Linked DNA regions of Homo sapiens. The protein of the gene in region 1 purifies or fractionates together with the protein of each later gene. This does not show direct contact. Each region holds a gene or a part of one and is shown on either strand. Other genes may lie near its edges.

What was found.
Region 2: the proteins of MFSD11 (region 1) and UBE2Q1 purify together in Homo sapiens (affinity purification with mass spectrometry; 2 studies listed by BioGRID and IntAct, with this or other methods). This does not show direct contact.

Annotation. Positions count from the first base shown.
Region 1 is NC_000017.11:76,739,989-76,749,607, forward strand, and holds part of MFSD11 (UNC93-like protein MFSD11), read left to right. Parts: intron 1-968; coding exon 969-1,076; intron 1,077-1,940; exon of another isoform or gene 1,941-1,980; coding exon 1,981-2,060; intron 2,061-2,188; coding exon 2,189-2,285; intron 2,286-3,409; coding exon 3,410-3,468; intron 3,469-4,333; coding exon 4,334-4,478; intron 4,479-9,619.
Region 2 is NC_000001.11:154,548,663-154,556,925, reverse strand, and holds part of UBE2Q1 (ubiquitin-conjugating enzyme E2 Q1), read left to right. Parts: intron 1-961; coding exon 962-1,066; intron 1,067-1,393; coding exon 1,394-1,498; intron 1,499-1,897; exon of another isoform or gene 1,898-2,140; coding exon 2,141-2,191; exon of another isoform or gene 2,192-2,276; intron 2,277-3,253; exon of another isoform or gene 3,254-3,317; intron 3,318-3,753; coding exon 3,754-3,894; intron 3,895-4,105; coding exon 4,106-4,190; intron 4,191-4,461; coding exon 4,462-4,522; intron 4,523-4,742; coding exon 4,743-4,833; intron 4,834-4,946; coding exon 4,947-5,005; intron 5,006-5,106; coding exon 5,107-5,155; intron 5,156-5,433; coding exon 5,434-5,529; intron 5,530-5,921; coding exon 5,922-5,988; intron 5,989-6,456; coding exon 6,457-6,488; 3' UTR 6,489-8,263. UniProt on the Homo sapiens protein: Catalyzes the covalent attachment of ubiquitin to other proteins. May be involved in hormonal homeostasis in females. Involved in regulation of B4GALT1 cell surface expression, B4GALT1-mediated cell adhesion to laminin and embryoid body formation.

The DNA.
Region 1 (9,619 bases):
ACCCCGTCTGTACTAAAAATACAAAAAAAAAAAAAATTAGCCAGGCATGGTGGTGGGCGCCTGTAATCCCAGCTACTCGGGAGGCTGAGGCAAGAGAATGGCGTGAACCCGGGAAGGGGAGCTTGCAGTGAGCAGAGATTGTGCCACTGGACTCCAGCCTGGGCGACAGAGCGAGGCTCCGTCTCAAAAAAAAAAAAAAAAAAAAGAACAAATGCAAAAACACATTTGATATTTGAGAGATTCATAAAAGCCAAAGAATAATTTACTTTGGATTTATGAATAGTATCTAGTAAATGAATTCAGGGCCTTTGAAATGGTTTTAACCACACTTCGTACAAGACATATGTACTAGGGCTGGGTCAATAGTAACTGAGTAATAATGTTCAAGTGAGACCATTAGGTTGAGTTAAATAAATTCTGGCTTAAGCAAGTTGTAGCTCTGCGCTTGTTATTTATAGCAGAGAAATGTCATGACGCTGCCAGAGTTGTAGGCTAAGTTTGTAGGGCAGATTGGTGGACTGGGGCCTCTGGAGTCATGCAGTCCTGGCTCGACATTCACCAGCCACCCAGCTGGACTTTTGGCAAATTACTTAATCCCACTGTATTTCCTTTTTCTTTTCTTTCACATGAGGATAATAACAATATCTTTCTCCTAGTGCTGTTAGGATTAGAAGAGAAAATCTGTATAAGGTACTTGGCACAGTTCCTGTTACTATGACTTACCAGTATGTAAAAAATGTATTGTAGGCAGACTGATCCCAAGGCACAGTTGGTGGGCTTCAATATTTTGTACAAATGAAAACTTTTATATGGTATTGAATTGAATGATATAACTATCATAAATTCTGACTAAATAATATGAGTGTTTATTGTAAAATCTATAAACAAATGGATTTTAAACAGTGACACAGCATATAAGGGCTTTGTTCTTTTTTTTTTTTTTTTCCGTTTGTGTATTATGTGTGCAGCATGGCTATTATCTATGGAGTGTTCTCTGCTTCAAATTTGATTACACCGTCAGTGGTTGCCATTGTAGGACCTCAACTCTCTATGTTTGCCAGTGGTTTATTTTACAGGTAAGTAGTGTAATCTTGCACTTATTTAATCAGAACACTTGTCAGGATCTTTCAAGTAGATAGTAAACTTCACAATAATTTATAGACTTGGACTGAATAGAATATAGGTGGTATTTTACGAATTTTGGCTCAGTACTTGTTGCTCAGGGATATCATATTCTAATGTGATAGGATGTATCTATATCTGCTTTTGTTTTATTGTTAATAAAAATAGTATCCAAAAGTCTCTATGAGGGTTGAAAAGAACATTCTATGAAATAATCTTATTTTCTGTCAATTGACTGAAAATATGTGGGGATTCAAATGAAATAACTAAATCTTTCTCTGAACTCTAGAACTATAGTTCCATGATGTGCTAAGCTTTTGGCAAAGAACACTGCAAACCTGTAAAATGTCTGATTTTGCAAATCTGAAATAATAAATTATGGGCCAGGCACAGTGGCTCACACCTGTAAATCCCAACACTTTGGGAGGCCGAGGTATTGCTTGAGCCAAGGATCACTTGGGTCCAGGAGTTCGAGACCAGCCTGGGCAACATGGTGAAACCCTTGTCTCTACCAAAAATAAAAAAAAATTAGCCGGGCTTGGTGGCACATGCCTGTAGTCCCAGCTACTTAGGAGGCTGAGGTGGGAGGATGGCTTGAGCCCAGGAGGTGGAGGTTGCAGTGAGCTGTGATGGTACCACTGCACTCCAGCCTAGGCAATGGAGTGAGACCCTGTCTCAAAAAAATTAATTAATTAAGAAATGAGAAAGTTGATTGTGTCCCTTTTTTCAAAACTGGAGCGATCCTTTACAGGTTGAGTTTTAAAAGAAGAGAATGTCAGAACTGATTCCTAGAAGGCATAATTGGCATTCTATTTCAGGTATCGTTTGACTGTAATACCTTGACCTGTTATATTTTAGCATGTACATTGCCGTTTTCATCCAGCCTTTCCCGTGGTCCTTCTACACAGCCTCTGTTTTCATTGGAATTGCTGCTGCTGGTAAGCATTTTGATTTTTAACTTCTCTGCTTTCTTTTCTGGGGCCTATCTAAGGGTATTATTTATGTGTTTAGTATGTGACTCTAAGTGAATTTCTTTCCCTTGATAAACTTTTGGGTTGAATTTTAGTGCTTTGGACAGCACAAGGAAACTGCCTGACAATCAATTCGGATGAGCACAGCATTGGGAGAAACAGTGGGATTTTCTGGGCACTTCTGCAGTCTAGGTAATTATCCTTTTGAGGTTCAGTCTTTCCTTTTCTTTCTTTTTTTTCTGTCATACCATTTTTTAGGTCTTTGGTTGACAATTTGGATCTTCCATGTTACGTGACTTAAGTTCTAGCTAAATGTGACGTGATTCCAATTTTATAGAATCACTTGTAATAATGGCTGAGTATGGTGGCTCACTAGCTACTCAGGACTATTTATACCAATACTGAATATAGCATACTAACTTTTTTTTTTTTTTTAAATGAGACGGTGTCTCACACTGTCACCTGGGCTGGAGTGCAATGGCACGATCTCGGCTTACTGCAAGCTCTGCCTCCTGGATTCAAGCAATTCTCCTGCCTTAGCCTCCTGAGTAGCTGGGATTACAGGCGCCCACCACCACGCCCGGCTAATTTTTTTTGTATTTTTAGTAGAGACGGAGTTTCACTATGTTGGCCAGGCTGGTCTCGAACTCCTGACCTTGTGATCCGCCCGCCTTGGGCTCCCAGAGTGTTGGGATTACAGGCGTGAACCACCGTGCCTGGCCTTAACATTTTTCTTAAGAAGAAAGCAAAACAGCTATTCTGCTCTTGACTGTTGGATTTCTGGAATCTCTTCTGAGGAATCACCCTCATGAATCGCGCCTAAAATTTTGGCCTTGACAAGGCTTAACAAATGCAAATGTTACATTTTAAAGAGTTGTATATTAAGAAACTAGTGTGTAAGTGAATGATTTTTCAGGAAAGTATGCTAAAGAAAGTATTTGATTAGATGCAGATAACTAAATCATGGATTTTTAGAAACAGATTCTTTAAAATTTAGCTTAAGCTTATTTCCAGGGAGTCATTTCCAGAGTTGCAATAAATCACATGTTTCAAAGTGAGTCAATTCTTCTTTGAAGGGTGCCTCTGAATCAGGTTACTGTCACATGGAAGGAGACTGAATTCCATCTGGGGCAGTTAAGTTTATCAGAGTCCAGATGAAGCTGATACTTTTAAATGACCCAGGACAGGTAGATACTTTAAAAATGATGTCCTTCTCTCTCCCTCTCTTACAACAAATAATGGGAATAATTATTTTTAAAAAACTATAAATATTAAAATAATTACCCAACATCCTATCCTCCCTTTTCTTCCCCCAGCTTGTTCTTTGGAAATCTCTACATATATTTTGCCTGGCAAGGGAAAACTCAGATATCAGGTTTGTTTTATTCGCGTTGCTTTATTCAGATATGTTCAAAGCATAATAGGAGTTATATAGAAATACCCATTATTGCTTTATTCAAGCATCGTTCTCATGAACCCCGACACCTCAAGTTCTCGCAGATTTTAGCTTTTAGTAAGACTTTTCCTTGGTTTATATTATTATTATTATTTTGAGATGGAGTTTCACTCTTGTTACCCAGGCTGGAATGCAATGGTGCCATCTTGGCTCACCGCAACCTCCGCCTCCCGGGTTCAAACAGTTCTCCTGCTTCAGCCTCCCAAGTAGCTGGGATTACAGGCCTGCACCACCACGCCCAGCTAATTTTGTATTTTTAGTAGAGATGGGTTTCTCCATGTTGTTCAGGCTGGTCTCAAACTCCTGACCTCAGGTGATCCGCCCTCCTCAGCCTCCCAAATTGGTGGTATTACAGGCCTGAGCCATCCCTCCCAGCCTGGTTTCTATTACTAAACTAGGATTATAGTTTATGACTATGCTTTAAGGGGCTTCTCAGGGTCTAAGGGAAGGTTATGCTGTGCACGAGCTTACGAGAATACTGCGCACGAGTATGTGGTTCTCAGAAGACTTCTGAATGCTCAGTTGTTTTCTCTGGACCCTTCTTTGATTAAAAGAAGGCGATTAAGCCCTTGTGCTGTTTTTCTTTGGCTTATTCATATTTCTCTAACTGAAAGACAAAGGTGAAGGTATCCTATTTGTCTCCTTTTCCTAGGTTTTTACTGATGCATTAAAGTAAAAATGTAACGAGGAAGTGTGTTGACAGTTGTAAGCAGCCCTTGTACCGTGATACTAATTCTGGAATTGTTTGGTCGATACTATCTTGTTTCTTCTTTTTTCTCCGTAGAGAGTGACCGAAGAACAGTGTTTATTGCCCTAACGGTGATTAGCCTTGTGGGGACAGTTCTATTCTTTCTCATTCGGAAACCAGATTCTGAAAATGTCCTAGGAGAAGATGAGTCTTCTGATGACCAGGACATGGAAGTCAACGAGTAAGATGTTGGAAACATTCTATTTTATTTTAAAATAGATTTTGAGTAGATCTAGTCTAGAGATTACCAACCCGTTTAGCCCTAACTGATGTCCAGTACTCTCTGTAGGTTACCACAGGCAAGAAAAGGAAGAAAATAAAGGAGGAGCTGCGAGGGAGGAAGAAAAAAAAGGTCACCAGAGGAAGGGAGGTGGTGAAAAGGTGCACAGGGAAGTTGAGTCTGTTCCTGGCCTTGCCACTGATGTGTGTGACCCTGGACAGTGGCAGCAATTCCTTTCATGTCTCCAGGCCTCAGCTTTCTCACTCAATCCATATGTTTCCATGGGCAAGGAAATAGAAGGCAGTGTTGACCTTGGTTACTGTTTCTGTGATCCAGCTCTAAAGCTTTCCTGTTCTTGTGGTGTGAGTGAGTGGCAGGGCCAGTGATGGTTGTCACAGATGAACCTTGGTTATCACTAGGCTCTTGCTTATGGTGTCCGGCTCTTGCACTAACTTACATAGGCGGTTTTCCCCAGAGTGGTCCAAATAGGGGAATGAGTATACAACCCTGTGTTTTGTAAAAATTGTAAATTACCTAAGCACATTTCAGTTTCAGGTGACACTATTTAAGCATGACAGGCTAGTGATCTGCAGTATCATTTAGATTTGAGGAAGGAGAGATGAGAAATTAATCTCTGCCACCCTTGTTTTGCTTTGTTTGTGATACATTGTGAAGATTGCCTTATAGCATTTTATATATTGTTAAAACTTTCGCATTGAGCATCCCATGCTGACTTTGTAATCCAGAAAGGGCCTAAAATTGTCCAGTCATAGGAGCATTAGATGCTCCAGATTTGCAGTAAGTTTGTGTAAAGCAGAAGCAAGGCAGCGCTTTGGTCTGGATATGCTGCCATGCCCTGCTTTCTTGCTCTTTATTGTGCTTCACAGACACTGGGTTTTTTACAAATTGAAGGCTTGTGGCAACCCTGCATCGAGTAAGTCTTTCTCTCCATACCACTTTTCCAACAGCGTGTGGTCACTTTGTGTCTCTCTGTCACATTTTGGTAATTCTCACAATACTTCAAACATTTCATTCTTATGACATCTGTTATAAGATGTGATCGGTAATCTTTGATGTTACTATTGCAATTGTTTTGGGGCACCACAAACCAGATCCATATAAGGTGGTGAACTTAATTGATAAATGTTGTGTGTGTTCTGACTGTTCCACTGCAGGCCATCCCCCATCTCCCTCCCTCTTCTCCTGAGACACAGCAATATTGAAATTAGGCCAGTTAATGACCCTACAATAGCCTCTATGTGTTAAAGTGAAAGGAAGACATGCATGTCTCTCACTTTATTATTTACTTATTTATTTATTTATTTATTTATTTATTTTTTGAGACGGAGTCTCGCTCTGTCACCCAAGCTGGAGTGCAGTGGCATGATCTCGGCTCACTGCAGCCTCTGCCTCAGCCTCCCAAGTAGCTGGGATTACAGGCATGCACCACCACACCCGGCTAATGACTAATCAAGAAATGACTAAGCTTAGCAAGGAAGACATGTAGAAAGCTGAGACAGGCTGAAAGCTATGCCTCTTGTGCCAAACAGCCAAGTTGTGAATGCAAAGGAAAAGTTTTTGAAGGGACTCAAAAGAGCTACTCCAGGGAACACACGAATGATAAGAAAGTGAAACAGCCTTATTGCTGATACGGAGAAAGTTTTAGTGGTCTGGATAGAAGATCAACCCAGCCACAACATTCTCTGAAGCCTAATCCAGAGCAAGTCCCTCTCTTCAATTCTGTGAAGGCTGAGAGACGTGAGGAATCTTTAGAAGAAAAATTTGAAGCTAGCAGAGGTTGGTTCGTGAGGATCAAGGAAAGAAACCATCTCCATGACATAAAAGTGCAAGGTGAAACAGCAAGTGCTGCTGGAGAAGCTGCAGCAAGTTATCCAGAAGATCTGGCCATTATAATTGACAAACGTAGCTGCACTAAACAACAGGTTTTCAATGTAGACCAAACAGTCTTACATTAAAAGATGCCATCTAGGAATTTTATAGCTAGAGAGAAGTTAATGCCGGGCTTTAAACCTTCAAAGAACAGGCCGACTCTTGTTAGGGGATAATGCAGCTAATGACTTGAAGTTGAAGCCAGTGCTCATTTACCATTCCAGAAACCCTATGACCCTTAAGAATCATGCTTAATCTACTCTGCCTGGGCTCTAGAAATGCAGTGACAAAGCCTGGATGGTAGCACATTTGTTTACGGCATGGCTTATTGACTATTTTAAGCCCACTGTTGAGACCTACTGCTCAGAAGAAAAGGTTCCTCTCAAAATATTACTGCTTATTGACAATGTACCTGATCAGCCAAGTGCTTTGTTGGAGGTGTACAAGGAGATGAATGTTGTTTTCATGCCTTCTAACAACATGTGTTCTGCAGCCCCTGGATCAAGGAGTAATTTCCATTTTTTTTTTTTTGAGACAAAGTCTTGCTCTGTCACCCAGGCTGGAGTGCAGTGGCGGGATCTCGGCTCACTGCAACCTCTGCCTCCCGGGTTCAAGAGATTCCTCCTGCCTCAGCCTCCTCAGTAACTGGCATTACAGGCGTGCACCACCATGCCTGGCTAATTTCAACTTTCAAGTCTTATTATTTAAGAAATACATTTCATGAGGATATAGCTGCCATAGATAATGATTCTTCAGATCTAAGCAAAGTAAATTGTAAACCTTTTGAGAAGGAGTCATCATTCTAGGTAGGTCACATTAAGAACATCTGTGCCTGGGGCTGGGTACAGTGGCTCACGCCTGTAATCCCAGCACTTTGGGAGGCTGAGGCAGGTGGATTGTTTGGGCTTAGGAGTTTGAGACCAGACGGGGCAACATGGTGAAACTTTTTTTTTTTTTGAGATGGAGTCTCACTTTTTCACCCAGGCTGGAGTGCAATGGCGTAGTCTTGGCTCACTGCAACCTCTGCTTCCCAGGTTCAAGTGATTCTTCCGCCTCAGCCTCCCGAGTAGCTGGGACTACAGGCACATGCCACCATACCCAGCTAATTTTTGTATTTTTAGTAGAGACGGGGCTTCACTATGTTGGGCAGGCTGGTCTCGAACTCCTGACCTCGTGATCCACCCGCCTTGGCCTCCCAAAGTGCTGGGATTACAGGCGTGAGCCACCGCGCCTGGCAAAACATTTTGTTTTAAAGCACAAACCAGTAGTTACTGGAGAAGGAGTCTGTGAAAGTGAATACCACAAATTCAATGAAAACTGACCCCCCCATTCAGCCAGCACATGTTTGGTGTTGGTCCTAGAGGACAAATGCCGCCCATCCCTGTTTTTAAGGAACTGCCAAGTTGGGGAGGTGGATGAGGGGTTCTGTAACTGTGAGCTGGCGTTCTTCTAGAAATACTGCTCAGCCTTTGTAGCATTCTCTCTTCCTGAATCGTCTCCTAAATTTGGAGCTTCTGTGTCTTTGTTCTACAAATAGCACAGACTTGTGGCAGCCCTCTTCTATGCCTGAGGGATATAGGCGTGAACAAGACAGATAAGTCCTTGTTCTTACGGGACTTAATTTTAGAGGGGGTGGTAGACAATGCACGTGTAAGAAAATAGCAAAGTGAGTGTTAGGAAGACTGTGAAAGAGGGGGAGAGTGGGGGGGAGGGGGGAGAGTGGGGTGGCTCCCTGAGACGTGGCTGGTGAGACATGAAGGTCAGCGGGTGGCCTTTGCCAAAGCCAGGCAGTGGGAAGGGCGTGGTGGGCTCTGGTCTCCAAGAAGGAAGAAGTGGAAGCAGTAGACAGGGTCAGATTATGTAAGCCAAGATAGGAGGTTTGTGTTTTCTTCTTAGTGTGATTAGAAGCTGTTGAGGGTATAAGTAGAATTCTGTTTTAAAGGTTCCCACCTAAAGGCCTCACAGAAAAAGATTTGAAGAGGTCCAAAGAGACAGCTCTGTCTGTCTTCTGGCTGGGCACAGTGGCTCCTGCCTGTAATCCCAGCACCTTGGGAGGCTGAGGCAAGAAGATCGCTTGAGCCCTGTTTGAAATCAGCCTGGGCAACATAGCAAGACCTAGTCTCTACTTAAAAAAAAAAAAAATGAGCCAGGTGTGGTGGTGCACGCCTGTAGTCCCAGCTACTTGAGAGGCCGAGGTAGGGGGAAGCTTCAGCAAAGGGATTCAAGGTTGCAGTGAGCTGTGGTCACGCCGCTGCACTCCAGCATGGGCAACAGAGCAAGACCCTGTCTTAAAAAAAAAAAATCTGTCCTCTATCTCAAGTGCGTAATTTGCATCTCTGAGGACTTATTAGCTGGGTGATCTCTGGGTGTTTCTTCATTGGCAGTTACTTCTATCCTCCTTCTCCCCTCCTCCCTGTATTCTTTCCTTCCTCTCTTCTTTCCTCCCTCTATCCTTTCACTTCTTACCTTCCTGCATTCATCCTTTCTTTCCCTTCCCTCTCTCCCACCCTCCCTTCCTCTCTCCCTTCTTTTCTTCCTTCCCCTATATTTGAGGTTCTCTGATATTCCAAGCATTGTGCTAAATAAAACAGAAGTTTGTGCATTCATGGAGCTTACTTTCTAGTTGGTGACAGAGAGAAAAGAAACAGGCAGGTTTTAAAAATAGCTTTATTGAGATATAACTCATATACTATATAATTCACCCATCTAAAGTATACACTTCAGTGCTTTTGAGTATATTCACAGAGTTGTGCGTCCATCATTGAAACCAATTTTAGAATATTTTATGAATACTTTTATTACCCCAAAAAGGAGCCACAGGATGAATGTGATGGCCCATGCTTGGCCTGTGGTTCCTTTTCCAGGTAATAAAAATCATAGCACTTTGGGAGGCCGAGACAGGCGGATTGCTTGAACCCAGGAATTTGAGATTAGCCTGAGCAACATGGCGAAACACCATCTCTACCAAAAAAAAAATACAAAAATTAATCAGGCATGGTGGCGCATGTCTGTGCTCCCAGCTACTTGAGAGACTGAGGTGGGAGAATCGCTTACGCCCAGGACGCGGAGGTTGCAGTGAGCCAAGATAATCACACCACCACACTCCAGCCTGGGTGACAGGGAGAGAGCCTGTCTCAAAAAAAAAAAGAAGAAGAAGGAACAATGTATGCTGTAGCCTATCTCCATATGGTTCTTGAAATAAAAAAATAAAG
Region 2 (8,263 bases), on another chromosome or scaffold:
CCAGTAGAGGTGGATAAGGTTTCCCTGGCTTGTGTGGGAACCTCGAGTTAATTTTGTTCCTGAATTAAGCTTCTAATTCCTTAAGGGTAGGTTTGCCCCTATCCAGCTGCTCTTTCTGTTGCCAGAGGCCATTTACTGCGTTTGTCCCTGGCAGGAAGTTAAATTTAGGGGGTCCTCAGCCAGACTCCCCATGGCTATAAAGGAGACTTGGCCTAAACTAGCCCCCTTGGTTTGGGCAGAGAGGGAGTCTGGTCAGGCTGCATTTGGCACCGTGGCTCAGGAATGCTGGGAATGTCAGTAGCGTAGGCTTCTTTCTCCCAGCCTGCCATGTGGAGCCCTACAGCCCACGCCTGGACTGAGAAGGTGGCAGGTTCCCAAGGGAGAGGTGGGGAGAATTGGTCTTTGAGGGGCTCTTCTGGAAGTGGTGTGGGTAGATTCTTGCCAGTACCCTTTTACTCTTGGGTTCTGGAGATACAGTCTAGTTTTTATACTTCTTCCCTACTGAACTCTGCTTTTTTCACTTCAGTGTCATTGTGATGAGGTGATCCCTTCCTCAGCCGATTCTGGAGTTTGAAAAGCAAGCTTGGAGGACTGTTCTGGGTCCAGGGAGAACTTGAAGTCTAGAACTTGTATAGGCAGTGCAGGAGATGAGGAGTCCCCCTTCGCTGTTAGCCAAGTTTGGCTGTGCTAGGTTTCCTGGTTTGTACTCTCGAGGAAAGAAAGAAAAGGTTTCAGTCTGCTTCTCGGAAAGGGTCTTCCCAGGGACTGTTTTTCTTCCAGTTTAGAATTTGTTGTGAAGCTGCTTGGTTAGATGCTGACCTAAGTTGGGCTTTTATGTGTGTGTAGGGGGTGGGGGTGGGAAGCAAAGGGGCTAGAAGTCTTGGGGGGAAGAGGACAGGCAAAATCTGGCTTTTCCCAGAGTCACCCATTTTGATTGCTCTTATTGCTCTTTTCCCTTCAGGAGTCATACCCTGCTGTGCCCCCCATCTGGTCGGTGGAGTCTGATGACCCTAACTTGGCTGCTGTCTTGGAGAGGCTGGTGGACATAAAGAAAGGGAATACTCTGGTGAGGGGGCCACAGGGTAGGGGTACATTTTGTTCTTATGAGGCCCATGCCACAAAGGCATCCTGTGAAAGGGATCCTGAAAAGTGGACGGTACACAGCTAAACATTTAGGGGATGACCTCTCGGGGGAGTTGCTTACTGAAGCCAGAGGGAGACCCTGCATCGGCCCTGGGATTGGTCCATCAGGAGACTCATTCCCACAGCCACGTGGCCCATAAGGCTTAGAGAACTAGTTATTGGTGTGGGGCCCAAACTAAGAGCTCATCCATGCACTTATCCAGATCGGAGTGGGGAAGGATTTGATGTCTCTGTGCTCCCCTACCTGTAGCTATTGCAGCATCTGAAGAGGATCATCTCCGACCTGTGTAAACTCTATAACCTCCCTCAGCATCCAGATGTGGAGATGCTGGATCAACCCTTGCCAGCAGAGCAGGTGAGCAGCTGAGGAGCCTCGGGCCCTGTTGTGCAGAGTTGCCCCACAGGGTACTCAGTAAATAATTGAGACAAATCAGTAGTTTCTCTCCATCCCCACCGGCTCCCAAAAACATACACGTCTTATGACTCTCACCCTCGTTCTTCTCCAGATGGGAATCTTCTTTTGCTAAATGGGGCACTGGTAGCTTCATCTCTGATATCAAAATTCATTCTCATGGGCAGCATCCCAGATGTTGAAAGGGAGCGGGGGAATTTTTACCATTATCTTAGCAATAACAGTTGGTGGCCACTGGGGACCCAGGCCCCTTGGTGAGAACCAAGAATGCAATATCAGTCTAAAGAAGATCAAGTAAAGGAGGGGTTCTTAGGAGAATTAAACTAGGATTTAGGAGGTGGGTGACAGAGACAGCCATTTTGCTTTTCTTTTATTCTTTGGCAGTGATAGGCGAAAAATAATGGGCTGGTAGCAAAGCCATTCCCTGGGCTGTTGCTTCCACTCAGATCTGGCTGGTGGAGAGACTGGCAGCATTACAGGCAGGCGCACAACTTCCAGACCTGGGGGCTCAGGGGAGTAGGTTGGAGGCTGCATTCTAGCAAGCCACTGGGGCTCTGATCTCCATCTTTCCCTTCCTTGCTGCAGTGCACACAGGAAGACGTGTCTTCAGAAGATGAAGATGAGGAGATGCCTGAGGTAGGCTTGCCCCCTGAGGTGGCATTGGCTGGAAGCTCTTGCAGTCAGCAACATTGGTACCCATATCCAGAACTCCAGTCTAAAACTGGAGAGAGAAAAATATCAAAGGAATAAAGACAGATTTACTGACCTGGAGGAATAGCCAGTGTAGTAGAGGAGACAGGGCACCCATATCCAACCACTGAAGACAGGTGCAGCGCGGTTCAAACCAAATACTGGGTAAGTTAATTTCAAATGGCTTTGGAGTCCAACAAACCTGTGTTTGCATCCTAGCTATCCTAATTGAGGAATTTTATGTAATCTCACTAAGCTACAGTTTTCTTATCTATAAAGTAGGATTATAATACCTACTGCATATGGTTGTCTTGAGATTAAATGAGGTGTTATATATAAAATGCTTCAGATGATACATGATAAATGCTAAACAATCTATCTGATATATTCTCTAAAAACATACAGAATATAAAATCATGGTTAGGAATTTGAGCTTTAGAGCTAGACAGAACTTGACTGAATCTTAGCTCTGCTAAGAGCTGTGACTTTGGGCATGATAATTGACCTCACTAGACTCAGCTTCCGCATCTATAAAATGGATAATGATAGAATAATGAGTGATGGTGGTAAGAATGAAATGAGCTAGTATCTGCGGCACCTAGGACAGAACCTGGCATGTAATAAACACTCAGTAGACATTACCTGCTGGTGTGGTAATTAGGTATGTCCTGCCAGAAATGGGGAGATCACTCTGATTACTTTTATTTCCTAGCATTAGATTAATATCCCAGGTTCTATAACCGTGTAAGGTTCTTGAGACTGGCAAAGGGCTGACGACATGAAATTTACTCCTCCCAGATAGTGGACAGCCCTCTGGGCCACACCCCCAACATCTGGCTGAGGGGCTCAACCCTACATAGGTTCTCCTCCTTCCCTATGCTCAGTGAGCTAGTTGCTTGCTCACTTAGAGCAGGATGAATAAGGGGCTAATTCTGTTCTTGACCTCTTCCATATATCTCTCTGGACATCCTTTCTCATTTCCATCTGGCAGTGCGTGCCTCTGCATACCTGATTCATGCCTTGCATTTGTAGCGAGGAGAGGAGATGTAATGATTCAGGTTTCTCCTTTAGGCTTGGGGCCCTGAGAACTCCCGGGTGCAATAGTCACCTGGTGAAACATGAGCTTTGAGTCACAGGGTCAGGCCCAAGTCATTTCTGCTAGGAATTAGGGAAGAGTTTCTGCTGCCAAGGGAGTTTTAGGAACAGTTGGAGCAGGGTCAGTCCAGGAAACAAGAGGGCTAAGTCCCTGCCTCGATCTCAGCTGCAGCTCTGCTCGTTTCCGAAGTCCTTGCTGTAGCTTGAGAGCTGAAGATTTAGACTGTGGAGGGAATGGGGCTGGAAATTGTTCTAAAAATGGAAAGCACGTTGCGTTTATAAGACTGCTAGATGGACTGCTTCACTTTAACTTTTGGCTCTTCGCCAAATGGGACTGGGAAGGTGATGGTCATTCTCTAACCTGTGTCGGTTTTTTTCCTTTTCTTTTCACTCCCACCCCACACCTCCTCCAGGACACAGAAGACTTAGATCACTATGAAATGAAAGAGGAAGAGCCAGCTGAGGGCAAGAAATCTGAAGATGATGGCATTGGAAAAGAAAACTTGGCCATCCTAGAGAAAATTAAAAAGAACCAGAGGCAAGATTACTTAAATGTACGTGCCTTCTAGAGAGAGGCTGGTGAAGGGGTTGGTGGGAAATGGCTGGGAAGTAGTAGGCCATCGCATCTCAGTATGGAGAGCAGACTCCTTTTTTGTGCCTAATCCTTTCTTAAATCCTGGGCAAGCTGCCAGACTGCCCCTAAGGTCTAACGTGTGTTTATAAACCACACGACCAAGGAATGTTCCTGTCATCCGTCCCTCACAGGGTGCAGTGTCTGGCTCGGTGCAGGCCACTGACCGGCTGATGAAGGAGCTCAGGGATATATACCGATCACAGAGTTTCAAAGGCGGTGAGTTTGCCCCAGAGAGGGGCCTGCACAAGAGTCACCCATAAAGAAGGGTATGGTGGCAAGGGGCCCAAGAGGTTCTGGGGTCCAGGAGTGCTTATGAACTTTTCAGGCCAAGAATGGAGCTCCTCAAGCCAGTGGCTTGGTTGCATGTCCATCTGTGGTGAACCTAGAGCTGTTGATCTTTTTCTCTCAGTCTGGGAAAGGGGTCTGCATTAGAGACCACTCACCACCTGGACCATTCTACTAACACCTGTTTTTTCCCTCCTTCCAGGAAACTATGCAGTCGAACTCGTGAATGACAGTCTGTATGATTGGAATGTCAAACTCCTCAAGTGAGTGGGGACTCTGGGATTGGAGAGGAAGTTGAGGAGGAGTGTGAGTGGGGCTACTGTGGTGGGATCTCCAGGGCAGCCCCATCCAGCATTTTCATTCAGGGTCCCGGAGCGGGTGTGGGCAGTGGTTTCGTGGTCTGCTGCCAGCCAGGGCAGGGGAGCCCTTATGAAGCTCCTGAGGTGGAACCAGGCATCTGAGCCCAGGCTTGTTGCTTCTTAGAGTTGACCAGGACAGCGCTTTGCACAACGATCTCCAGATCCTCAAAGAGAAAGAAGGAGCCGACTTCATTCTACTTAACTTTTCCTTTAAAGTAAGACTTTTCTTTTCCAGTCTCTCCCTCTGGCCTAGGCTGCCCAGTCTGCCTGACAGTCCTGTGGAGGATGCTGGCCTCCCTCCCCTGATTGTCGTCTCTCTCTCTCTCAGGATAACTTTCCCTTTGACCCACCATTTGTCAGGGTTGTGTCTCCAGTCCTCTCTGGAGGGTGAGTGGCTGGCATGCGGAAGAGGGCATCTCCTCTGGCAGAGGGCGGGGAAGAGACTTGGAGATTTTGTCAGGCACAGCTGACTAACCTTTCTCATGCAGGTATGTTCTGGGCGGAGGGGCCATCTGCATGGAACTTCTCACCAAACAGGTGAGCCTGTCTCTCCTCCTTGGCCAGGCCGGCCTGGGCGGGGATTGTCTGAGCTTTACAGCACACACCCCTACGGGCTGGGTGATAGACATGATGTGGCCCTTTCATTCTGCTGGGCTGGGTCTGCACCCACTGACCTAGACAGACAGGTGGTGGCAGTGCTGGGGGCAAAGGGCAAGGGCCCTCCTATAGACACAGCTGATTGCCCAGAGGACAAGCATGAGGGTTCTCTGGAAGCTCCATCTGGACCTGCTTGCCTTGTCCTTCCCTTCACCCAGGGCTGGAGCAGTGCCTACTCCATAGAGTCAGTGATCATGCAGATCAGTGCCACACTGGTGAAGGGGAAAGCACGAGTGCAGTTTGGAGCCAACAAAGTAAGGATCCTGGTCCTGGGGCTGGTGGGGCTGGGTGGAGCCAAGTACACTTGGGGCCACTAGCAGGCCAAGGCTGCCTTCTTTAGAGGAATGAGCATAAGGCCCCCGGGCTGGTGGCATTGGATGAGAGGGCCTAGGGTGCCCACAATGGAACAACTGTGCCTTGGCCCCTAGGGGCACCCCTAGGACTTTTGGGAGGTTTCGGGTCTGGAAAAGGAAGACTATGGGATTATGCCTCCAAGGGACCTCGAAGGTGGAGGGTACTTAGTGTTTTACTAGACCACAGTGCTGGGAGCTGGGACTCTGGGGTCTCTGGGTGACAGCCTGCAGAAGGTGAGGGGCAGTAAGGCCACAGCTAGCCATGGCCTGATCTGGTGGCTTCCTCTCCCCAGTCTCAATACAGTCTGACAAGAGCACAGCAGTCCTACAAGTCCTTGGTGCAGATCCACGAAAAAAACGGTGAGGCTGGAGCCAGGACTCAGGAGATTCGGACACTTGCCACACCCAGGTTTTCACTTCCAGCCACAGAGCAAGAACCCCTTCTTTTGGTTTCTGATACTCAACCACCCATTAACACAGCACCTGCCCCAGTTCTCCCAGGAGGGACTGGCGGTGGCTAACATTCACAACCTCTTCCAGAAACACACCAAAATGATCGTATCACCGATAAACTTGGTGCTACCCCCTTCTTGACCACCTTTTGAAAAAGCTCATCTAACTCTCCCATCATCTCAGGTTGGGCACATCATTCCCCCTTCTCATCTCCAGGTATGCAGGCTCTCAGCTTCCCATACACCTCTCCCCACACAGCATAGCCCTCCCCAATATCCTCTTATCTCTGCCACTGGAGACGTCTTCAGGGATTGGGGCAGGACAGGGAGGGTGGGCCTGAACCTTCACCTCACTGACCATTCCATTTCTTTGCAGGCTGGTACACACCCCCAAAAGAAGACGGCTAACCCTGGAGTATCACCCTTCCTCCCTCCCCAGGCACCACTGGACCAATTACCTTTGAATGCTGTATTTGGATCTCACGCTGCCTCTGTGGTTCCCTCCCTCATTTTTCCTGGACGTGATAGCTCTGCCTATTGCAGGACAATGATGGCTATTCTAAACGCTAAGGAAAAAAAACAAACACAGAACTGTTTCAAGTACTCAAGACTGACTTACAGACCAACCAACCACCTTGCTGGAACCCTTGCTAGCAGGCATTCTTATAAAAGAAACTTTCGAGCCTCCTTATATTGCTGGAAACTCAGCTGTGCTCCAGACTAGAGCCTCCTTACCTATGCTATGGATTTTTAATTTATTTTCTCTTATTTCATGTACACTGCTTTTTTTGGTTACAGTGTATGATGGATGTGTATGAAAAAAATGTATCTTTGGGAAAACAATTACAGTTTGTTAATTTGAAGATGCTGGTCTTGACTCATCTTTATTTTTATTCGCACATCCCACCCCATCCCCTGAACTACTTGGGAGGTGGGGAGGGGTACGAGTCCACTGTTGCTTTGGTAGAGATGAGAGGCCGCATTTTGCTGCTAAAGCAAGAGAAACTTGGAGCTGAAGCACACACCTGGTCTGCCCCTAGATTTCTCCTCAAGGCCTCTGGAGCAACCAGCACTTGCCCCCTTGGAATGCAGAGCCTGGCCTGCCAAACTACAATGTGGTAGGCTGAAACGATGGTGTTAATTCTTAGGACTACTTTTCTAGTCACAGATGTTTTCAAATTTCTAAGAAAAAGAAAATGAGGCTCAAGAGGCTGCTTCGTAGAATTCCTTTTGAATGAATTGAGTGGGGATGGGGACACAGTCTCCAAGTGTGTATGTGGTCTTTTCTGATCTCAGCTGTGTGGCTGCAACTCTTCGCTGTTCATTGGTTCCTCTCCTGGAAAGTGGCTTCTAACCAGCACTGGATGGTGATCATTGGTAAGCTTTGCTCACCTCCCTCTCTCTTGCTTCATTTGGCTTTATCAAAAAGAACAGACCTAGCTCTGAATTTGTTTGGCTTGGGAAATTATGGATTCTTTCAAGCCACTCCCACAAGGTGGGTCCTACTAGAAAGGGTTAGCATTTTAAGGGGGGTTGTTCTATACACCTGTGTCCTTACCCCAGGCTCAGGAACTGCCAGGGAGGGAAGATGAGGTGGGGAGTCTGTACTGAGATGGAACTGTCAGTGCTGTGTTGTATGTACTTGCTGTTGTAAAAGTTTGGGCATGACTTTGCATCTAGCGGGTGCTGCCTGCATCTCTTTGTCTGTAAGCTTGCTCTGGGACTCAGCCTCTTAGGACCTACGATGCCAGCAGCTCTCATTAACAGTGAAATGACAGAGGCCAAAGATGGCCAAGTGAAGACCCAAGTCTCAGAAAACCCAGACTTGGGACAACTGCCTGGGAACTAGGATGCTAGAGCAGTTCTGTAATGCTTTGAGACACAGCAATTTTCACATTGGCCATTCTTTCCCCTCCCCTACCCCTTTTCTTTTGAGGGACTTTTAATGTTTGCTGCTTTAGGTGGATGGAGAGTCCACCAGTCCCACTCAATGCTGCTCTAACTCTACCCACACCCACCTAATTAGGGGTGCTAATAAAACATGCTGAGGTTGAGATAAAGACGGGACATAAGGGGAAAATTCATTCCATAGAGCTGAAATCTGGTTTTCAAGGCCTCTGTGGCTTTCTTCTGAACTTACCACCAGCCCTGGCTGGAATGTAGATTGTGTTTTTAGTAATGTG